Linked DNA regions of Homo sapiens. Changing the gene in region 6 together with the main gene of any one other region gives a genetic interaction. Each region holds a gene or a part of one and is shown on either strand. Other genes may lie near its edges. The genes, in order: RICTOR, RAB1A, MAN2A1, CAND1, TBL1XR1, EED and MAN1B1.

Region 1 (3,500 bases), on a different chromosome or scaffold from region 6:
ATTAAATAACTACCAATGATGATGATAAATAGCTAACTTTTATTGAGTGCTTAATATGTGCTAAAGTATTCTAACATATATTGTTGACATATAAGTACCTGACATATATTAATCCACTTAAATAAATGTAAATGAATAATTTAAAACTAAGGAAAGTTGTTTAGAAGCATTTGGTCCAACCACAAAAATTATAGGTACAAAATTTTTTTGCAGCAAATACTGTGTATCTTTTAAAAGTAAAATCTAAACTGTTCACTTTGACTAGCTTGATATAATCTAAATATGGTATAGAAATCCCTGCTGAGTCATGAGGACCAAGTATTTCATTTAGTGTTTATTAGGTTCCTATTTAATAATCACAGCTACTTAAAGTGAAAATAATTTCACTGAAATTTTCATTTATCTTTTTAAAAAAATAATAAAGAGGTCAACTTTTGGAGCCTTAAATTGACCTACCTGAAAAGGTTGTTTGTTATTGTAGGTCTTAAGCTCCTGATTCCCCCGACATGCTTCTTTTTAAAATCGATCCTTGCAGAAGCGAGAAATAAATAAAAAAAAGCTTGTGACTTGTATGTCCTTTGCAAAGCATGTATGTTTATTTTCAGGGCCTATAGGATTTTCTTCCCCCCTCGCAGCTGCAAGAATCCATTTCAAGTCATATCGGGTAACAAGGAGCTTATAGCCTACCATAGTAAACAATTATAATAGGTCAGTGATGAGGCTCACATAGTGTAAAACCTGGCTAACATTTTGTATTTAAATTTGTTAAAATGCAACCATTATTGGTCACTTCTAAACATATATTTGCTTACCTGCTTGGTGTTAATCTGGACTCAAAACTGTTGGCCTTCATGGTGATGGTATCAGTAAATAGCACATCTTTTGCTGGAGATGCCAAAGCTTCAGAGTGAGATAAGGATGGATGCATTCTTTGTTGCTGTAGTCTTTTCAGTGTAGCATAGCCAAAAGCATCTCTAGAACTTGTGTAACTAAAGTTACAATCTGCTAGACTTTTAATTGTAGCAATAGAGGGTGCTTTAAGGGACTGTGCTCTTCTAGGAAGCGTATGAGAAGAACCTGGAGGCACCAGGGACACCGAATTTGATTTGGAGAGAGACAGATGGTTAGACTGTGGCGTCAAATAGTGGCTTGTCTTAATAGTTTTAGTACTTACCACAGTACTCATGCTTCCACAGTCTGTGTCCATAGTTGTAGCATCTACACCTACTGTCTCTCGTGAAGGACTTGAGCTCATTGAACTTATGCCACTTGTTGTAGTGTCTGTATTGAAACTTTGGCTACGTATCTTCATATGTGAGCTCGTTGAACTTTCTACTACTAACCTCTCTCGGCTTGTATTTTCTCTGTGATTCTCTGTACCAAAATTCTTGGTGAATTTTAAGTCATTTTCTCCAATGCTTGGTGTACTACCAGTGTCTTCAATGTGCTTATTCCCCATAAATGAAGTCTCTAATTGTAATGTTTTCTGTACAGTGGATATGGGTGTAAAATCATCACTATGATTAAAATCAACACTGGGCTCCGTAAGTGTTCTGATTCGCCTGTTGCTTGTCTTACTTTCAGATGATAATTTCCCTCCTTTTGGATCACTGCTACTACGATGTTTTTTGTTAGGCAAAGTAAGCGAATTTAAGATACGATTCTTCACAAGTTTACTAGAAGCAAAGAAAGGGAATGAATTTTTATCCTTTATGGGTCCAGATCGGTCATAAAATGTTGGCTCTGTATCTTCATTGATATCAAGGAAAAATGTGCTAGTAGAGCTGCTGCCAAACCGGTCATCCTCCAATATGAACATACCTATGATTGAAGGATCAATTAATAAAAACACATATAAAATGACAAATTCATGATAACTATTAGTGACATCACATTTCAGGAAATTTTTTTTTAGTCATCTAGAGGAAAAAATTTAAAAATAAACGGTTAAACCATTCAGCTACTTGAAAATATCTTTCTTGAAACCCAGAGTTTGGACTTGAATAAAATGTAAAATTATGTAATTTATGAGAATCTCCTGTTATTTCCAAAGAAAAATTATTATAAGACCCACTATGGCACAGGTTACATGAAGTTTCTTTTGATTCTCCAAATATTCAGGATGAAATTAAAGGGAAAAAGGAGACTTGGCCATGGATGCTTACTCAATTACTACAGATTCCTAGTGGTTCTTCTTTAAATTACTATAAGCAGGAGAAATTCACCTTGTAAGAAATGAATTCCCAATCTTAAAATATACTTACAGAGAACCAAGTGGTAACATTATAAATTCATGTTTAAATTATGTTTATTTCTCATTTTACCTTAGATACTAAGAAACTCATTAAATTTAGTGCCCAATTCTACTAGAAGACGCAACCCAAGTGAGTGCCTAATGACATCTATACGATTTTTCTTTTATTAACTTTTCTGTTGAATAATTACAAATACTTCAAATATATTTTCAAAGAAGGTAAAAGAAAATCCTAAGTGAATTTGCATACTGCATTACCATTTCTATATTTTGTCAATTCTAAGATGCACACTTTTCACATTTAATCCCTTCTATTTTCACACAGAATCTGATTCTAAAATCAATATGCATCTTGTAGTATGTCCTAGTTTAATAGGCAGCACTTCTTCTTTCTTCTTCTTTTGTGGTACATAAAATATTGGCATATTTCATAATTCATGGCATCTCAGATTTGGTGAAATACACAGTCTGATAAAGCTGACACTATCTTCTTAAAAGGAAGAACCATGCCTTAAATTTTGTACACCTAACACCACTTAGCACAGGACTTAAAACCACAAATCATTTTATATATAACTATTTTTGTTACTCTATTAACAATTTCACTATTTTAAAATTTAGTGCTTCTCTCAAAAATGAAGATGTGAATATAATATCAGTTAAAAATATATTCTGGCTCAACAATCTCAGTATCTGAAAAATGAGTAAAAAGATTAAATAAAGAAGGTAGACAAATAAATACTTGTTATATTTGTTTCTTTTCTGTCAAAAAAAGGAGGACTGGTTCTTCTGGCACATGGCTTATTACATAACTTTGTAGGAATCCTCAAAAGCTACTTAGAATATAAGGAGAGAGAAAAATGTAAGCTGGTGATTATACTCTTTGTTATGAAAATATACACATTCTCCAAGAGGCTATTATTGCCAAATAATTATCTTAGACAAAAGCAAATTACAAATGTAACAAATACATTTAAATTCTAAAATTCAAATATAAATGTTAACATTGGCTAACTTTATATGAACCTGTCAGGATACTCACTCGATGGCACAGATTCACTTTCACTATTATGTCTAGAGCTGGTTGACTCCGAGTTCAAACTTAGAGTGCTTGGGATAGATGAAAGTTCATTACAGAGTTGTTCCACATCATCTGGAACCACTGGCCACAGATGTTTGCGACTATGCCTCACAGCATCCCAGTTGTGACATTTTAGAATATCACAGCCTTGTTTGGTTTTAGCTA
Region 2 (3,500 bases), on a different chromosome or scaffold from region 6:
ATCCACCCACCTCAGCCAAATTGCTGGGATTACTTGTGTGAGCCACGCGCCTGGCTTCTACTTGGCTTTTAAAGGGAATTTTGCTTTCTGAGTAATTTTATTTCTCAGGTATCTTGGTCTTTTTAATTCTGGAAGCAATCTTAATAATTTATGTATGTGCCCTGTAATCCCAGCACTTTGGGAGGCCGAGGTGGGCGAATCACGAGGTCAGGAGATCGAGACCATCCTGGCTAACACGGTGAAACCCCATCTACTAAAAATACAAAAAATTAGCTGGGCGTGGTGGCAGGCGCCTGTAGTCCCAGCTACTTGGGAGGCTGAGGCAGGAGAATCATTTGAACCCGGGAGGCAGAGCTTGCAGTGAGCCGAGATCGCGCCACTGCACTCCAGCCTGGGCGACAGAGCGAGACTCTGTCTCAAAAAAAAAAAAAAAAAAATTTACGTATGTGCTAACATCCTGCTATATTCACCTTCCATAGCAATCTGTTGGCTGTGTGTTGTGTATGTGTGTGTTTTCTCTTCTGGGTAGTTTTGACTATACCTATGTGATGGTTTCACTATTTGTAGTTTGAATAGTTCAGTTTTATTTTGGATAGTAAAGAAGAGCTTGCTTTTTTTTTTTTTTTTTTTTTGTCTGAGACGGAGTCTTGTTCTGTTGCCCAGGCTGGAGTGCAGTGGTGTGATCTGGGCTCACTGCAAGCTCTGCCTCCTGGGCTCACACCATTCTCCTGCCTCAGCCTCCCGATTAGCTGGGACTACAGGTGCCCGCCGCCAGGCCCAGCTAAATTTTTGCATTTTTTAGTAGAGATGGGGTTTCACTGTGTTAGCCAGGATGATCTCCTGACCTTGTGATCCACCTGCCTCTGCCTCTCAAAGTGCTGAGATTACAGGCGTGAGCCACCACGTCTGGCCAGAATAGCTTTCTTTTGTGGCAAGCTATATACTTTCCTAATATATGAACATGTTTAGGGTAAAATAAGATGCTTCTTAACGTTTTGAGATTTAAAAAAAATTTGCTAATCAACTTTGAGTGTCTGTTTTTTGAGATATAGGGTCTTACTCTGTCACGCAGGCTACAGTGCAGTGATGCAATCATAACTTACTATAGCCTCCAACTCCTAGCCGGGTTTCAGTGATCCTCCCACCTCAGCCTCCTGAGTAGCTGAGAATACAAGCGCGTGCCACCACACCTGGCTAATTTTTTTTTTTTTTTTGTATTTTTTGTAGGGATGGGATTTCAATATGTTGCCCCAGGCTAGTCTCAAATTCCTGGTCTCGAGATCCACCTGCCTCAGCTTCCCAAAGTGCTGGGATTATAGGCATGAGCCCCACGCTTGGCTGAGTGTCTTAAGATGAAGAAAAACTGAAAATGGGTGTAGTGTGCCAGTGCATGAGGTATTTTAAATGTGTAGCTTACCAGCTTTTTTTTTTTTTTTTTTTTTTTTTTTTTTGAGATAGAGTCTTGCTCTGTCACCCAGGCTGGAGTGCAGTGGCACAATCTTGGCTTACTGCAACGTCTGTCTCCCGGGTTCCAGCATTTCTTCTGCCTCAGCCTCCTGAGTAACTGGGACTACAGGCGTCCACCACCACGGCCAGCTAATTTTTATATTAGTAGAGATGGGGTTTCACCATGTTGGCCAGGCTGGTCTCCAACTCCTGACCTCAGGTGATCCGCCTGCCTTGGTCTCCCAAAGTGCTAGGATTACAGGCGTGAGCCACTACGTTTGGCTGCTTATCAGCTTTTTACCACTTTGTCGCCACTACATTTTGGAATTTTCCTTTGAGAATTAGGCAAAATGCCCAGACTCCCCCCCGGCCCCCGCTTTAGAGGGAGAGGGGAGCAATTAGACTATTCCTTTGTTTCCCTATAGAAGGTGGGGCTGAGATTACTGCTTTGATATCTGGAATGTAATTTAGGGAAGAAAATTTAGGTCTTGGCCTTTCTTTGGAACCACCCTGGGAGTGTTGCAGATTATTAATAGGGTAATGGTGGAATGATATTCAGGGGAAAAATGGTCCTGAGGAGCCAGAGAACTAAGTGTTAGTTTGTTGGCTGACTGAAACATGTGAGAGATAGGGTACAGAAGAAGTAGGAAATAGTTTTCCTTGGTACTTCTGTGACAGGTTGGCTCAATTGGCTGGAACACCCTACACTGCTTTATTAAATCCAAGGTTGTGATAGGTTCCAGTTAAGTTTACTGTGTTCTATGCTTGTAGATTTCCTAATTAGGACAAGTAGTGTTAAATATGCATGCCTTTATTCACAAGAGGGACCATTCTTTTGGAAACATCACTTTTTAATAATACTAGGTGCTATTTAGCACTTACTCGGTGCCAGCCACGTGGCTATGGTTTTTTTTTTTTTTTTTTTCGAGACATGATCTAGCTCTGTCTCCCAGGCTGGAGTGGTGGTAGCACAGTCATGGCTCACTGCAGTCTCAACCTCCTGTACTCTAGTGATCCTCCTGTCTCAGCCTCCTGAGTAACTGGCACCATGCCTGGCTAATTTTTTTTTAAGAGATGAGATGTCGCTATGTTGCCTATGCTGGTCTCGAACACCTGGGCTCAAGTGATCCTCCTGCCTGAGCCTCTCAAAGTGTTGGGATTACAGGTGTGACCCACCTCACTTGGCCATCTATGGTCTTTACATAGGGCATTTTGTGCAGTCTGCGTCTCAAACTAGTGATCTTCAACAGTGAAACTCAGTGAATTATGTAATTCATGTTTTCCAAGAACAATGATGGATTTAATTTCTCTGAATGTATTTCCTTTGTATAATAATAGTACTTAAGTGGAATTACTCTTTGTCCTTTCTACTCTCCTTATAGATATTTTCTGGTATCTTGATTTGGGACTGTTACATTTAACCCATTTATGGTCGTGTAGCCATACTCACGTTACATTTGATGCATCTGCTCCCTTTGTGTCTATATACTCATATAACATTTTGCATAAAGTTATAGGCAGTTCACACCAAGGCTGTTCATGAACCTCAGATTAAGAATACTTGATTTAGGAGATTGAAAACAGAAAAGAGAATGTTAACTATCATTATCAATATTAAAATGTGAAAATCTGAGAGTGACAAAGCTTAGCTTTAAATCTGGTATCCCAAACTCATTTGAGTTTTTTTTTTTTTTTTTTTTTTTTTGAGACAAGGTGTCGCTTTGTCCCCCAGGCTGGAGTGTAGTGGTGTGATCTTGGCTCACTGCAACCTCCACCTCCCAGGTTCAAGTGATTCTCCTGCCTCAGCCTCTGAAGTTGCTGGGATTACAGGCTGCGCCACCACGCCCAGCTAATTTTTTGTATTTATAGTAAAGACGGAGTTTCACCTTATTGGCCAGGCTGGTCTCAAACTCCTGATCTTGTGATCCTCCCGCCTCGGCCTCCCAAAGTGCTGGGATTACAGGTGTGAGCCACTGTTCCCGGCCTAATTTGAGTTTTAAAATGTGGAGTTTAAGATGTTAGTCTTAAAGTGGGTTAGATGAAATTTATAAAAA
Region 3 (3,500 bases), on a different chromosome or scaffold from region 6:
TTTCTAAATCTAACATACTGTTTTCTAAAGAAGAGAAAGTACTTTAGTTTAAAACTGGACATACTCTACCATTTGCTGCCTCTATCCAGGCTTTGTAACCTCTTTGCTGTTGACATTTTGGGCCAGAGAATTCTTTCGTGTTAAGGGCTGTCCTGTGCGTTGTAGGGTGTCTAGCAGCATCCTTGCTGTCTACCCGATATCTGCCAACATCACTGTTCTCTCTCTGTACCCCTAGTTGTAGGAACCAACAATGTCTCCAGACACTGCTCTCAATATCCTCTGGGAGTGGGAATCATCCCTGTTGAAACTGTGTTGGCTGTGGCCTCTTCTTTATACCCAGTACATGTCGTTAGCACTTCTGTGTTTTAGGAAGGATTGATCAAAAGGCCGAAGCTCAAAAAGCCAATTAGCATTTTTTGATGGGTGAACTCTATTCTTTCTCAGGATGCCTGAAATTCACTTACACATTTAGGATTCTAGATTGTAGTATGTTACAAAAAATTTCAAGGATAGATTATGTTCATAGGTAAGTTGAAGGAAAAAATGGAAGATTCTTATAATGGAACGTAAAAAAATTCTTTTCCAATTGGACGTGTGTATTCTGAGAAAAACATTAGGGTCAGGTCATTGTAAATAGATCATCTTTTACTTTCTTCCAGCTGAATTACAGGTTGGCACTTATCCAGATTTATTCCTCTTAGCATAGGAAGATAAGATATATTGATTAATAAGGTAGTATAAAAATTGTCTGCAAAAATGTTTTGAAATGTCTGCAGTTTTCTCAGGCAGACTGTTTACTTTTCAGTGTATTGTTTTTATTTCTGTTAATTTTGATGATTCTGGTTACAACATTTTAAATATCTTCTTGAGATGAGAAAAAGCAGGGAAAGAAACTGGAAAATAAGGAGAGTGGATAGAGACTTTCCTCCTGATCATTTCATTTTGTCCTCTAAATAGCATTTTTTACGAAAGTGGGGTGGAGGTGGGAGGTTAGGGAAAGAATGAAGTTCTTGACAAATAATCTTCCTTCTTTTGTCTCCAAGGCCTCTGGTTTTGAACTCTGCTGAGTCAGCTAACTATGAGTGAAATCTGTCTGCCACCTGTCTTTATAGGGCCATGTGCTAAGAATGGTTTTTACATTTTTAAGTGGTTTAATAATGTTTCATGACATAGCCATGGTCATTCATCTACCAATTGTCTCTGACCACTTTCACACAACAGTGGCATAGTTTAGTAGTTAAGACAGAAACTGGCTCACAAAACCTAAAATATTTACTCTCTGGCCCTTTTCAGAGTTTGCCAATCCCTAGTTTAAACTATATTTCTCTATTGTTAATATTGGAGGCAAATAGTATTGTTAGATCTGTTAAAGTAGATGTGAGTTAATTAAAGACAAACAAAATTCTCGTAAATTGGTTATTAGATAAGCATTGGTCAAACTTTGTGTTTTTAGAGAGTGGTTTAAAACTTGTGTTATCTACATGTTTCATAGATTTCCAGGTATCCTTGGGGAACTTTGATGCTAGAGCATCGACATGCTTGATGAGTTTGTTTCTCTTCTTTCACCTGAAGGTTTTGCACTGTAGGACTGCTCTGGGAAGGAAGGTTCTGGGCCATGAACTAGGCAAAATTGATCCATAGCTTCAAGACTGAAAACCATGACTTTATGACTTTTTGGATCTGCTGTAATTCACAGATGGGCTTAATTCTGAGCCCAGTCTGATTGCTTGGGTTAGTTAGTCCTGAGAAGGGAGAGCTCAGGTATAGGTATCTTCTTCATAAGCTGTAAATAGAAGATGGAACTCAGCCGGTCTCTGGGATCCTGAGCGTTGCTCAGCTTGGAGGCAGGGTACTTTCAGGTTGTCAGCAGAGGTACTGGCCTGCTCTTCTGCTTATCAAAGAGCAGTTCTTGCTAATTTTCATCATTTTCTTCACTTTTAAAGATTATATGTCACTTTCTTTGCTGTGTTGCTGTGACACAGGCTAACACCCCATTTGTGTCCTCACAGATTTTAGTATCATCTTTAAATTGCAGTATACTGAGTCCGAACAAAATGGGGGTAATGCGTCTCATCGAGTAGTATTAAGGTTAGTGTTAAGTAGAGTTTTTTAAGTATTTGTTTTTTTGCATTTAAAAATGTATGCATTTGTGTATTTTTCACATGTAAATGGATTTACCACTGGCCTCCTTTGCAGGTGGTGCCTTTGGAAGTCCAGAGAAATTAAATGCTTTTTCCAAGAGCAGAGAAGACTCTAAATTTGACCCTGTCCTATGTTCTTGCTGGTGCACTTCATTGGCTTCAGTGAGGAGTCCGGAGAGCTGGGACTTTACCAATGATTTTTTTTTTCTTTTAAACATGTAAAAGGTATAAATGCACATAGAAATAATTCAAATGACATAGAAAGGTACACATTGACAATAGAATCCCTCTCCCTTTTTTCCCCATCTTTAGTCCACTCTTCTCTGAGTCCCACTTCTGACCATTTCTTTATGTTCCATGTGTGGTTCCTTCTTTAAATATATGCATATACCTCTGTTTTGATTTTTGTTTCAATTTTGAGCTATTGTTTCCCTTTATAAGAGATGAAGAATTTAACTCAATACCCCCTACTCTTCCCAGTTTTTAAAAAAGTTTTGTATTCAATTTCTGTTTGATATACATTAACAGCTTTCAATGATGTAATTGCATTTGTTTTCTTGATTCATCAACTTTAGGCCTAAAGTGACTCCCCACTCTGTCAGTCAAGGAATTTGGTACTTCTCAGCCTTCTCCCACTCAATTTCTCTTCCTTCTCATTTCTCACCCTCCCTCAGCCATCAGTTTTTTTACATCAACATACCTTATATCATCTACATTTCATTCTGTGACTGAATGTGTTATGTACTCTGACTATAGGTTGGTTACAAAAATTGAAAACCAGTAAACAAGGATACGGAATTTTAGGTAGGAGGAATAAGTTCAAGAGATCTATTGTACAACATACTGATTATAATTAATAATAAAGCATGTAGTTTTGAAAATTGCAAAGAGTAGATTTTAAGTGTTCTCACCACAAAAAAGAATAAATAAGTGATGTAATGCATATGTTAATTAGCTTGATTTAGCATTCTACAATGTATGCATTTTTCAAAATGATATACTTGATAAATATATACAATTTTTATTTGTCAGTTAGAGCTCGTTTGGAGGTTCCAGCAGGGGAGTGCAGCTCCTTGTATACCCTTGACCGAAGACCCGTCCTCCATCAGGGATGGTCATCCTCTACGACTGAGCATGCAGCTTCAGGAGGGGCTCACATAGAGTGGTGAGGGAGGAAGGGGACACCCGCCTAGCCAGCCAGATCAGCCGAATCAACCCTGGCGATCAATGGGGTGACAGATTTCGCAGCCAGATCGCCCTCACATCCTATTTGTCAGTTAAAGAAATAAAAAATGTTAAAAAAAAGAAAACCAGTACATAGTGTTTTCAATTTTATGATATTAAATACCATGCAGTATA
Region 4 (3,048 bases), on a different chromosome or scaffold from region 6:
TTATTGCAAGTGCCTCCTTGCCCAGCCACATGTTGTTGATTTCTTTTTTCTTTTTTTTTCTTTCTTAATTTTTTTTTTTTTTTTTTTTTTTGAGATTGATGGAGTCTTGCTTTGTCTCCCAGGCTGGAGTGCAGTGGCGCAATATCGGCTCACTGCAACCTCTGCCTCCCGGGTTCTAGCTATTCTCCTGCCTCAGCCTCCCAAGTAGCTGTGATTACAGGCGTGTGCCACCATGCCCAGCTAATTTTTGTATTTTTAGTAGAGATGGAGTTTTGCCATGTTGGCCAGGCTGGTTTCAAACTCCTGATCTTAGGTGATACACCCGCCTCGGCCTCCCAAAGTGCTGGGATTACAGGCGTGAGCCACGTCCCCCAGCCAGTTTCTTAATCTATACATCTAGCCCAGTCCATGCCCCTGTTTCAGACTATTATATCCAACCACCTGCTATACATCTCATAAAGGTATCTCAAACACAGCATATCTAAAGCTGAAGTCATCATCTTGCCCTGGTTTTTCCTGTCTCTTTGCTGATGGCATCCCATTTACCCAGTCATTCAAACTGGAAATCTAAAAGCCTCACTTAGCAAGAGTTTGGAGGCAGAATATGATAAAGAACAAGGACTCTGGGAGGCCAAGGCAGGTGGATTGCTTGAGGTCAAGAGTTCGAGACCAGTCTGGCCAACATGGCGAAACCCCGTCTTTGCTAAAAAAACACAAAGAAATTAGCTAGACGTGGTGGCACATGCCTGTAGTCCCAGCTGTGTGGGAGGCTGAGGCAGGGGAATTGCTTGAACCTGGGAGGTGGAGGTTGCAGTGACCCAAGATTGCATGCACCACTGCACTCCAGCCTGGGTGACAAAGCGAGACCCTGTCTCAAAAAAAACAAGGACTCTACAGATAGATAGACATCATATATCATATTAGTTTGAATCCTGGCTGTTAGCTGTTAGACTTGGGCAAATAATTTAACCTCAACTTTCCCTATCTATAAAATGGGAATTAAAATATTTGCACCTTATAGGGTTATTGTGAGGATTAAATAGGAACATTGTATAAAGCACTTAAAACAGTACCTGGGACATACTAAGTAATATAATTGTTAACTCTTACTAGCATTCTGTCCCTTTTATTTCCTAAATATCTCTCATGCCCATCTCCTAAATATCTCTTTCCTAAATATCTCTCATGCTTTTGGCTTAAGACCTCTTTTCCTCCTTATCTATTGACTGGACTGCGGCAAATGCCTGCTAATCGTTATTTTTGTGTTCATTCATTTAGCAAGCCAATTTATTACGCGCTTAGGGTGCTGCCAGGGCTACAAAAGCTGTTGAGACTGTACTTGATATGAAGAAGCTTGCTGATTATCATGGGAAGACTGACATAAGGAAGCACCATAAAATTCTGCTGTATGAGAGGTATACACGGGATACTGGGGGTTAATAATTGAGGGTATGGTCCATTCAACATGAGTGAGACAGAAACAATTCATAAAGGAGATGAAATGTCTTGAGGAATGAGCTCTTAGAAGAATAGTTTTCAAATGAGTGTGCATCACAGTCACCTGTAAGACTTATTAAAACAGATCGCTGGGCCCTACACCCAGAGGCTGTGGTTCAGTAGGCTGTAGTAAACCAGTAATTTGTATTTCTATGACGTTCCCAGGTTCTAATGCTGTTCCCCAAGGCCACACCTTGGAAACCACCACATTAAAATACCCAGAAGGCATTAATTCCCAGTCCTTCCTCTACACAGCTGCAAAACAATGGTCCTGACCATTTCATCTTTGCACTACATCCTTCACTGTCTCTCTTTTGCCCATAGGATAAGTACAAACTAGATCTGGTTACTGCCTGCCCCACCAGCCTCAGCATCTCTCACAACTAGGACTAACTTTTTCTTCTGACAACTATAAAATATTTCCCTTGCCTTCTCAAGTTTGCTCAAGGTCAAGTTATGCCTTTTGCCTGGAATGACTTGACTTCTCTTTTGTTTTACTTAGCTGGCTGCTTTTCATCTTGTAGGTTAGGTCAAGGACTCCAGGAAGTCTTCCCTGGACAAGTAATGAAGAGGGCATAATCCAAGGGCCAACTCCCATGTTTGGAACCTGACTCCATTTTCAGGCACGTAATATTGTCAAATTCCTTTTAAAAGCACCTGTCTGTCTGTTAACGTTGGTGCAGATACTGCTATTCCCCTCCTCCATACCATTGCTGATGGTTACTGAGGGTATGGGAAGGGCCGACTAGTCCAGCTGTTCACAAACAGCCCTTAATGTCAAACTGAATACTGCCAACGTAGTTCCAGTTTCTGTATCTAAAGACTCAGCTTGGAGTCACTTGTCTGGACTAAAAGTAACCCCTCCTTGTCTGGTTTGTGACTTTCTGTACTCTGATGCCCCCAGCTTTCTGCCTTCTAGAAATTTGTCAGAATTTCCAAAATTCTTGGGCCTTCCTTCTTGCTCTATATATGGTTTTGGATTCATTCCTTTTAAAAAATATTTACTGTCATTTCAGTAGAATTTTGACACAATAAATATAAGCACATCAGATTTTTTGCCATCTTGAAGCATCTGTTATTTCTTGGTCTTTGGTAATGCTTTACTGAGAAACATTATAATATAGTTGTAAAAGCTCAGGCTCTAAACCTGGGTTTAAATCTGGTTCTACCACTTCTTGAGAGTGGGACTTTGGGCAAATTATTAATGTATCTAGTGTTACCAGTGGAGGGGCTTGACTACGAATTGTCCAGGTCCTGGGCATTTTGAACAAAGAACTGAACAAAACGCGCAAAGTAGCAGAGGAATGAAATGCAGGAATGAAGCAGCAAAAGCAGGAATTTTATGAAAGCGAGAAAGCACTCTACTGGGTGGGAGTGGGCCTGAGCAAGTGGCTCAAGGGCCCAGTTACAAAGTTTTCTGGGCTTTAAGTATCCCATTTGAGGTTCTTATCATCTACCCCTTATCTGGATGAAGTATTTGGTCTGTGGCTAAAGGCTGAGGTGAATTGGCACCCTATGCACACGAAGAGATGGTCCCTGTGTGGCCCTCAG
Region 5 (3,500 bases), on a different chromosome or scaffold from region 6:
TAGGACATATAAAAGATTATAAATACAGAGCTTTATTATCCTGACGTCTTGGGTCTTTTAAGTATATACTTTTCTGAAAGGTATCCATTTTGTAGGCTTGGGTTCTTCATGAGCATACGATTGTTTATTTTTGCTGCTGTTCTCAACATCATCATTGCCTGCTGATGTGCCACGATGCTGCTCCAATAGACAGCAATAAGATTGTCTCTAATTTGAGCAGTAACATGATTGCAAGAGACCAAGTTTCACAGCTTGTAAAGTTCTGTATTTGGGATTCTTGCTTATTTTTCCGCCTGTGTTTTTCTGAGAACTTATTCCTGATGATCAATTGAATCCAGTAGTTTTTCTATGCTATTTGTTGTTGTATAAGCTACTGTAAGAAACTTATCATAAGGAAAAATAGAAAGGAAAACTTGAATCAATACTCATTGATTAAAATGGAATAAAGAAAGAGCAGCTGCCACTTTTAAACAACATAAAGGAATATCTTTTTTTGTCTCCGTGTAGGAAATCCCATAAGTTCTTATATTTGTTCCAGTTCCCATTTCCTGCCATTGACCAGATAACATCATTGACTTTCAAATGACTTTTAGAAGTGATAACTCTTAATTTCCTAATAGATACTAGATTGTATTGAATTCTGTTTTAATTATTCTCTAGGTAAGTATGTTTTAGGATTAAATACCTTTTACAGATACTGAAAGTGCCTCCTTTTGTGGTGTAAAAAACAAATTATGGTGCAAAAAGTAATCACTAGATTGAAATACATGAAGGTTTTTTGCTTTTTGACATACGAAAATGTCAAGAGAAAGGCCAAAGATTTGTACTTTTTCACTTACAAAGCACTCCTTTTTCCCTTAAACTTCTTTCTGTCAAATTAGATTTAATGAGAGAGTACTATTTTTAAGGAGCTATCTGTTTATGTAGAATGATTTTGTTAAGAGTAATGTAAACTATTATTGAGTAGAGGCCTAAAGAGGACTGTGCATTTTTGCTATTTAAAGGAATCACAAATGATCATACTTAAGTGAGCAAAAATGACAAGTTTTACTAGCTAAGTAGAGAAATAAATCTCAAATGCAGCGCTACAATTTTCATTATCTTAAGTACATTGTACATTTCTACAGAACCTGTGATTATTCTCGCATGATAAGGATGGTACTTGCATATGGTGAATTACTACTGTTGACAGTTTCCGCAGAAATCCTATTTCAGTGGACCAACATTGTGGCATGGCAGCAAATGCCAACATTTTGTGGAATAGCAGCAAATCTACAAGAGACCCTGGTTGGTTTTTCGTTTTGTTTTCTTTGTTTTTTCCCCCTTCTCCTGAATCAGCAGGGATGGAAGGAGGGTAGGGAAGTTATGAATTACTCCTTCCAGTAGTAGCTCTGAAGTGTCACATTTAATATCAGTTTTTTTTAAACATGATTCTAGTTAAATGTAGAAGAGAGAAGAAAGAGGAAGTGTTCACTTTTTTAATACACTGATTTAGAAATTTGATGTCTTATATCAGTAGTTCTGAGGTATTGATAGCTTGCTTTATTTCTGCCTTTACGTTGACAGTGTTGAAGCAGGGTGAATAACTAGGGCATATATTTTTTTTTTTTTTGTAAGCTGTTTCATGATGTTTTCTTTGGAATTTCCGGATAAGTTCAGGAAAACATTCTGCATGTTGTATCTAGTCTGATGTACTTATCCATCTCATTACAAACAAAAACACACAGACTGCATTTGTAGCTCTGTAATCCTTGAATACGGAAGTAAATTTTCTTCTTTCCTGACTTTGACATTGTAGCTATACTGTTTCCATTTTTGTTTTTACAAATCCTTTGGGTCTAATTCTGTGAGCCTACCTATAGCACTGGATTAAAATGTCTGCATCATTTCTTTAGTTATCCAGTTAACTTTAAAACTGTTGTAAAAGTGTAAACCAGCCCATGACAGGTTTTTGTACATGTTAAAGAACTTCATTGTTCAGTTTTCATGATTATTGTGTAAGGAAGACTGATGTAGATGTTCTGTGCTGTCCTGGACCATGTTAATTACACTTACGACGTATTTTAGTTCCACATCACAATGATTTGTCCCCAGTGACCCTTTTATCCTTTCTAGGCACATTTCTTGTTGTTGTTGTTGTTGCAGTTCCCCTTTGCATTGTATTGCTTTGACAACTGTAATTTGAATCAGATCTGAAAGAGGTCCAGAATAAAATATATTTTGATATTATGTTGGCTGTGTACATATATAAAACCTTTGATGTCTATGTAGTTTATATAGACTATTTACTAGTCAGGTAAAGAGAGAGGGATGGTATTTCTTGTTTACAGTTTGTTTACATTTTAATTGCTTTTACTTCTCCAGTGTTCTATTGTAGAATAAACCTTTTTTTCCAAGTTAGCCTTCATAACCTATAACACATTCATTCTCTCCCATACTGGTGTTACTGATTAATAACTGCCATCAGAACCCAAACCACTGTTTTTCATAAACGTATTGTTTCCCAAGATATATACTTTAAGCCCATAATAAAATTACAAATTTTACTATTTTTATTACTTCTTGCAGGAGATAAGATTTTTTTAAATGAAGGGGTTATTTACTATTTTTATTAAAGTATAATAGAGCATCTAATCAGCTAAGGGATTGTAATTTTTAATTCTTTTGAAAAATAAATATTGTATTTAAAAGACGTTATTTCACAGAAGCTGAAAAAGAGACCTTAGATAACATTTGTTTGGTTAGCCACACGGTTGAGCACAAAACAATGTGTAGATGTGTTGAAGATTAGGGCAGGAGGCTCAACTTCTCGGTGACCTTTTTTTGCTTCACAACAAGCCAATTATAGTTGAATCATTTTCTCTCTTAGCTAGTTGTTACTACAAACTTTATAAGAAAAACAACTAGACACCTTCTAGTTTTAATTAATACCAACTCCTTTAGAGTTAGAGACTTTTTAAAAAGAATCATTGAGCATATTTTCTTTTTTTTTTTTTTAAGAATTTACACTCTCTAGGTCTTCTATTTTTCCTGTTTATTTCCTTAAACAGAAATAAATTCAAGCATAGTTTTATGTTTTATTAGAAATAAGCCACTGCAGTTGCTAGAACTGACATGCTTTCATTTTCAAGGGGTTAACTTTTATTGCATGGCATAGATTATTAGTAATATCCTGCATTGTATACTTTTCCAAAAAGGGTTGGACTCCTAAGGATTAGAATCCTTATAAGCTTGAGGGAAAGCTGAAACTAATTTGAACAGTAATAGAAGGGATTATTTTTAATTTCATAGTTAACACTTTACAATGGATTAGATTTATTACCTAGTATAATCCGTAGCAGATCAGATCAAAGTTTACTGTTTTACCAATATATTCATTTGAAAAAATACAGTGGAGGAAAAGACACTTTAGATGGTAGTTTTATGGTGCTTTTCTCTGCTGTACCAAAGTGCTTTGTCATCAATGAAATGTTAACCCTATGCTACTTTTTCTGCATGCT
Region 6 (3,500 bases):
TTCTTAAAACAAGTTTCTAAATATATCAAAATATGAGACTTTAAAAAAGGCAACTTCCCAGCTGCCATTCAATTTAATAAACTACATAAAGTGCTCCCTGCCAAGTTCCAACATGCGCACACACATACACACACACACACACACACACACACACACACGATGGAAGTACAGCTTAACTGCAGTTACCATACCTTAGAAAGTATCAAATCGCCTAACCATCGCACACAATCAACATAATTCCTATGTATGTCTCTGGTAGAAAAATCAGGAAAATGGATTTTCTGAGAAATAAATGGCCTGAAGGAAGAATGGAAATGTAAAAAGTTAAAAGAAAAAATTATAGTAGAATCATACTCTTTTTCATTTTTGGATTTATAAAACTTGGAAAAACAAAATGTAAGACTATTAATTCCTCTGTGTTCCTACATAACCAACCACCTTATCTATTTATTGAAAGCTAAAGTCTCATTCCACTTTTGTTTATTTTTCTCCATTATTATCCAATTTTATCTTTGTCCTATGATAGATACTTTGTTTATAAACATTGTAGTTTCCTGCGTTTTACTATATATAACCCAAAATTAATCACCTCAATTCTGGGTACCCTAACCAATAATAAAGGCCTGATCAGTTTCTCACTGAAAATATACTAAGCTACCTACTCAGTCCTTAAAATTAAGCATTAATAATCTATGAAAGTCAATATATCTACACTATTTCAAAAGATAGTCATCTTTCCAGGAACAACTAAACATCATTCCAAAGTCTGCTAAAGATACATCTACAGTCCTGCCTTGAGCAATAATTTCTGAAAATGATGCCTTACAGGAATTTAAAATTTCTTAAGTGGGGGTGGGTGCGGTGGCTCCCAGCACTTTGGGAGGCCGAGGCAGGTGGATCATCTGAGGTCAGGAGTTCGAGACCACCCTAGCCAACATGGTGAAACCCCATCTCTACTAAAAATACAAAAAAAAAAAAAAAAAAAATTAGCCAGGCATGGTGGCGGCCGCCTGTAATCCAGCTACTTGGGAGGCTGAGGCAGGAGAATCGCTTGAACCTGCGAGGCAGAGGTTGCAGTGAGCCAAGATTGCACCACTGCACTCCAGCCTGGGAAACAAGAGCAAAACTCCGTCTCAAAAAAACAAATAGAACAAAATAAAATTTCCTAGGACTTTTCCAAATAATTTCTGTATTTAGGAAACTAAATGGCAACACTGTTTTCATTAGAGATATTTGTGAGAAGAAACAAAACAAGCTGCTATTAATTCTGGAGTTATTTAACAGTACACTTAACATTCCTAATATACTCAGTTTTAAATCAGAAATAGCTGTATAAGTATAATATGCCATGAATTAGTTGTCTTAGGCAATTCATATGTCCTCTCTTTACCTTTTCCCTCAGATATGTAAAAAAGCACTTTGGATTGGAGCAACTCAAAACAATCCTTCCAATTCAAATTCTGGGATATTTTGTTGAAACATTAAAATGTTATTCGTGATCTGATATAAATTCTTAACTCTGCTATAATTATATTAATTGCTTTTTAGCTAAATACATACTATAATTGTATGGCCAAACCTCTCTCAAAGAAAAAACGAGTACAACTGTTATTTTTTGAAAACTCTGAAATATAGTTTGTATTTATTCCAGATATCTAGAAAATAATCTAAAAATATAAATTTAACATTGTCCTACTAGCTCCTGGTGTTTTAAAGGAGAAAGGTAAAACTTTTAATAATTCTTAGAGGACACTTAGGTCTGATGAATGTTAGTGCATTGAAATATTTACTGATGCTTACAAATTTAATAATCTATTAACAATCTGGCTTGATAACCAGAAAATGAATTCTAGCTCTTTGCTAAAACAAAAGTGCCAACAAAGTTAACATGCAGACATACAACGTTTATAGTGAAAGTGTTAATGACAGCCTGATAAGATTCTAAAGACAGTTACTGCATTAAGAATTGAGACATTTCAAAAATATACTAAGAAAACTGCAAAATTCCCCAACCTATAGTACCATGAAGTGAGGCTCCTGCATTTGAATTCTCTCCATTTAATCAAGTGAGCATCATTTAGGGAAAAACATTATCATGAATTAGAGCTAAGAACTCCATTGTTTAAAACTGTGGTTTACCATCTTGAATTAGAATTAGCATCATTTAAAAAAAGTTAACATTATTCTAAAGTGTCCTTTACTCTCCCTAGTCCATAATAAGCTTAAGTGATTTAAAACTTTTACATTTATAACTTAAAAGGCCAAGCATATGCATACCAAAATACAAATAAGTAAAATGTGCTACTAAGTTAAGATGACAACACAATTTAAAGGGGATTTTGAAAACTAAGCCACAAACACTGCAAATAAAGGACTTCTTAAAGGGGTGAATTTTACAGTATGTAAATTGTCCCTTAAAGTTAAAAGAAGGTCTTCTAAACTCATTGTTGGGGCTTATATAGCAATTTTGGGAAAAAATAAAACTTATATTCAATAGCACAACATAGCAAATTGTTTCAAATACCACAACTGTTACCTGTTAGTTTTATTTGGATTATAATCATAAGATTCCTTAATTGCATTCATCATTCTCTTTGAATTGATCCTCCAAAGTTTAAGAGAATGATCCATACCACAGGACATTATTTTTTCACCCAAAAGATCATAATCCTGTATGCAAAACCAAAAAGTTTTATATAAATTACAGCTCCAAATTATATTTATCCAATTTTTGCCTAATGTGCAACATAGTGAAAACTGTATTTCAAATCACAATACAAACTACATTTTGGGTTTCATCTAAATAGGCCATAAATCAGAGTTTACTACTTTCAAGATTTACAGCTTTAATTAGTTTGTCAACATCGGAATATAAGAGCATTTACAATGTATAAACCAAGAAAAAATTACTTAAACTTAGTTTTATCTATTCAATTACACTAAAATATTTATTTTGCTTATTTTGAAGGTAAATTGAATACTAAGTTAAAATAATTATTCTGACACAAAGAGCTGAATAGTGATATTACTTTTCCTATCCAACCTCAACCAACCAATGAAACTGACATGTGCATGTGAAAATACATGAATCCTTAAAGAGCTGACATCTTACTTTATAATTCTAAGTCAAAATATTTTGAAGTTAGTTTTAGAGTTCACTTTTAAGTGAATTTTTAAAAGTCTAATAAAAAACAGATTTTAACTTTTTTCATTTGCTGTTTACTAATTTTTAACAGGCATGTAACAGATCATCTATTGTAACAACCTCATTTCATAGGCAGACACTAAGGCCCAGAGATGCTATTTAATTTAGCAAAAGGCACATAATGAGTAATGAAAATCTCACACACCTATCCACCTCCAGTGAACTCCTGTATTACACAGAAGAGCTACATACTGTCTCCTGCTCTCATTCTAAGAAATAACAGTAGAGAGTTCTATTGAAGGAGTATATTTTCCTTACTAACCTAGATACTATATGTTAATCCAGCCTTTGCATT
Region 7 (2,849 bases), on a different chromosome or scaffold from region 6:
ATGCAGGTCGGTGGTGTTACATTCACGCTGTTGCAGGAGTACAGGTCAGTGGTGTTACACACATTCATGCTGTTGTGCAGCTATCACTTCCATCTCCAGAGCCCTTTTCATCTTAAAACTGAAGCTCTCCCATCACACAGTGACCCTTCATGTCCCTCCCCAGTCCCTGAAAAACACTGTTCAGGTTTTTCTTCCTGGACCTCATTGTGTGGAGTTCCTCGTGTGAGTGCAGTCACACACGATTTGTCCTTTTTTTGTTTTCGTTTGTTGAGACAGAGTCTCATTCTGTCACTCAGGCTGGAGTGCAGTGGCGTGATCTCAGCTCACTGCAACCTCCACTCCCAGGTTCAAGTGATTCTCCTGCCTCAGCCTCCCAAGTAGCTGGGATTACAGGCGCCTGCCACCACGCCCAGCTAATTTTTGTGTTTTTATTAGAGACAGGGTTTCACCAAGTTGGCCAGACTGGTCTCAAACTCCTGACCTCGTGATCCACCCGCCTGGGCCTCCCACAGTGCTGGGATGACAGGCGTGAGCTACCACACCCGGCTGATTTATCCTTTTATTTGGGCTCCTTTCACTCAGCGTCTTTAAGCTTCATACGCGAAAGATGCTTCAGAGATTCCTTTTTCAGGCTGAATATCTGCTGCGTGGCTAGGCCACTTTTTGTTTAATCCTCTCTCCTCTGGTGGACACCAGGACTGTGCTGTTTTGGTTGCTGTAAGCGCGGGTGCACACGCCTGCCTGAGGCTGTGTTTTGGCCGTTGTGAGTGTGGGTGCACACACCTGCCTGAGGCTCTGCTTTGTTGTGAGTGCGGGTGCACACACCTGCCTGAGGCTGTGTTTTGGGTGTTGTGAGTGTGGGTGCACACACCTGCCTGAGGCTGTGTTTTGGGTGTTGTGAGTGTGGGTGCACACACCTGCCTGAGGCTGTGGCGCGATCTCGGCTCACTGCAACCTCCACCTCCCGGGTTCAAGCGATTCTCCTGCCTCAGCCTCCCGAGTAGCTGGGACCACACCCACCACCACACCCCGTTATTTTTTTGTATTTTTAGTAGAGATGGGGTTTTGCCATGTTGGCCAGGATGGTCTGGAACTGACCTCAGGTGATCCACCCACTGGCCTCCCAAAGTGCTGGGATTACAGGTGTGAGCCACTGTGCCCGGCCTCTTTTTACTTTGTTAATGGTGTATTTTGATAGATAACAGATTGTCATTTTCATGAAGCACAGCTGGTCAGTTTATTGTTGCTCATGTATTTGGCCTCATGTTCGAGTCCCTGTTTTTAATCATGAGCTGGACACAGCCCTCTTTAGAGCAACTGTGACCACTTGTGGTGAGAAGTGCAGCCCACACCATCCACGTGAGGCTCCCACACGCCATCCACGTGAGGCTCCCATGCAGACATTTAGAAGGCGTTTTCACTGCAGCTCAGAAAATGGCCCCAGGCCCCCATGGGCACCCCCATGTCACCAGGGCCTCTGGTTGCTGCCGGTACACAGGGATAGGCAGCCAGGCCTCGAAGGTGCTGGGCATGGGTTTGGGTGTCTGCGTTGGGTAGAGACCCGGAGCGCCCTTGCTGGGCGTGCCCTAACATCCCGGTACCCTGTGCCCCTCTGTGGGCCAGGACGCCTGGTGCTGCCAGCTGGGCGTAAGCCCTGAGGAGCTGAGGGTGGCTGTGACTTGGAGGATGAGTAGGAGCTCACCAGGAGGGCGTGGAGCCGAGGCGTTTAATATCATCAGGAGCAACACTGGGCTCAGAAGGCAGGCACACTTGCCGTCCCTCCAGAGCCATGGCTGACGGCCAGGCCTGGTGGGCTCTCGTGAGGACAGTGCCTGTGGTTGTCAGATGCTGTCCCTTCGAGTAAGGGATGAGAGCCATCCTGAAGATGGGTCAGCTCTGTGGTGACCACCCGTTGGGAGCAGTGACATTCAGGTGCGTTGCACTGGTGGCTGTGTGGCTGTGTGGTACGGCCACCAGGAGCCATGTGGGCAAGGACAGCTGTGGGCTGGGCACAGAGCTCTCTCTGCTGGGAGTCAGTCGGTGCTGGGGCGAGGGGAGGCAGAGCTCACAGAGCCCCTCTACAGCTCACCCTGCAGCTCGGCCCTGGCCAGTAAACCCACCATCCCCCTTTCTGCCGCAGGAGGCAGTGGAGAAGGTGACACAGCACATCCACGGCCTGTCTGGGAAGAAGGATGGGCTGGTGCCCATGTTCATCAATACCCACAGTGGCCTCTTCACCCACCTGGGCGTATTCACGCTGGGCGCCAGGGCCGACAGCTACTATGAGTACCTGCTGAAGCAGTGGATCCAGGGCGGGAAGCAGGAGACACAGTGAGGCCCGGCCCGCTGCCCCCAGCTCCCGCGGCTCCCCCGTTCCCGCAGCCCCCCACTCCTGCTGCCCCCAGCTCCCACGGCCCCCGCTCCTGCTGCCCCCCGCCACACTGTGTGTCAGGAAACCGCAGCCGTGCCAGGCCTGGCCCAGGCATTTATGTGGAGGGCGTATTCATTCACCTCTCACCGTGGCCTCTGGGGGGGTGAGGGGGGCATCTTCACTGAGGGCCATGGGCTGTGCAGGGTGGCACCTTCTGTCCGGCAAGGGCCAGGCCTGCTGTACTTGTGTGGGCCCAGGATGTGCCTGTCCCTGGTGCCCCACGGGAGCCGATGCACCGTCCTGGTAGAGTGAGATGACTGCTGGTGTCCACAGGCTGCTGGAAGACTACGTGGAAGCCATCGAGGGTGTCAGAACGCACCTGCTGCGGCACTCCGAGCCCAGTAAGCTCACCTTTGTGGGGGAGCTTGCCCACGGCCGCTTCAGTGCCAAGATGGTGAGTGTGTCTGCGGGGCCTTCC

Evidence for each region.
Region 1: changes in EED (region 6) and RICTOR together harm fitness less than expected from each alone (positive genetic interaction), as found in Homo sapiens cells (one large-scale study listed by BioGRID).
Region 2: changes in EED (region 6) and RAB1A together harm fitness more than expected from each alone (negative genetic interaction), as found in Homo sapiens cells (one large-scale study listed by BioGRID).
Region 3: changes in EED (region 6) and MAN2A1 together harm fitness more than expected from each alone (negative genetic interaction), as found in Homo sapiens cells (one large-scale study listed by BioGRID).
Region 4: changes in EED (region 6) and CAND1 together harm fitness less than expected from each alone (positive genetic interaction), as found in Homo sapiens cells (one large-scale study listed by BioGRID).
Region 5: changes in EED (region 6) and TBL1XR1 together harm fitness less than expected from each alone (positive genetic interaction), as found in Homo sapiens cells (one large-scale study listed by BioGRID).
Region 7: changes in EED (region 6) and MAN1B1 together harm fitness more than expected from each alone (negative genetic interaction), as found in Homo sapiens cells (one large-scale study listed by BioGRID).

What each region holds. Positions count from the first base shown.
Region 1 is NC_000005.10:38,948,900-38,952,399, forward strand, and holds part of RICTOR (rapamycin-insensitive companion of mTOR), read right to left. Parts: coding exon 3,297-3,500; intron 1,822-3,296; coding exon 813-1,821; intron 529-812; coding exon of another isoform or gene 457-528; intron 1-456. UniProt on the Homo sapiens protein: Component of the mechanistic target of rapamycin complex 2 (mTORC2), which transduces signals from growth factors to pathways involved in proliferation, cytoskeletal organization, lipogenesis and anabolic output.
Region 2 is NC_000002.12:65,120,107-65,123,606, reverse strand, and holds part of RAB1A (ras-related protein Rab-1A), read left to right. Parts: intron 1-3,500. UniProt on the Homo sapiens protein: The small GTPases Rab are key regulators of intracellular membrane trafficking, from the formation of transport vesicles to their fusion with membranes.
Region 3 is NC_000005.10:109,696,427-109,699,926, forward strand, and holds part of MAN2A1 (alpha-mannosidase 2), read left to right. Parts: intron 1-3,500. UniProt on the Homo sapiens protein: Catalyzes the first committed step in the biosynthesis of complex N-glycans. It controls conversion of high mannose to complex N-glycans; the final hydrolytic step in the N-glycan maturation pathway.
Region 4 is NC_000012.12:67,317,406-67,320,453, forward strand, and holds the end of CAND1 (cullin-associated NEDD8-dissociated protein 1), read left to right. Parts: 3' UTR 1-2,548; downstream 2,549-3,048. UniProt on the Homo sapiens protein: Key assembly factor of SCF (SKP1-CUL1-F-box protein) E3 ubiquitin ligase complexes that promotes the exchange of the substrate-recognition F-box subunit in SCF complexes, thereby playing a key role in the cellular repertoire of SCF complexes.
Region 5 is NC_000003.12:177,019,483-177,022,982, reverse strand, and holds part of TBL1XR1 (F-box-like/WD repeat-containing protein TBL1XR1), read left to right. Parts: 3' UTR 1-3,500. UniProt on the Homo sapiens protein: F-box-like protein involved in the recruitment of the ubiquitin/19S proteasome complex to nuclear receptor-regulated transcription units. Plays an essential role in transcription activation mediated by nuclear receptors.
Region 6 is NC_000011.10:86,265,253-86,268,752, reverse strand, and holds part of EED (polycomb protein EED), read right to left. Parts: intron 2,671-3,500; coding exon 2,537-2,670; intron 298-2,536; coding exon 192-297; intron 1-191. UniProt on the Homo sapiens protein: Polycomb group (PcG) protein. Component of the PRC2/EED-EZH2 complex, which methylates 'Lys-9' and 'Lys-27' of histone H3, leading to transcriptional repression of the affected target gene.
Region 7 is NC_000009.12:137,103,985-137,106,833, forward strand, and holds part of MAN1B1 (endoplasmic reticulum mannosyl-oligosaccharide 1,2-alpha-mannosidase), read left to right. Parts: coding exon of another isoform or gene 1-381; exon of another isoform or gene 382-992; intron 993-2,140; coding exon 2,141-2,331; intron 2,332-2,704; coding exon 2,705-2,825; intron 2,826-2,849. Other genes in the region: uncharacterized protein LOC124902313, read left to right, coding at 1-226. UniProt on the Homo sapiens protein: Involved in glycoprotein quality control targeting of misfolded glycoproteins for degradation.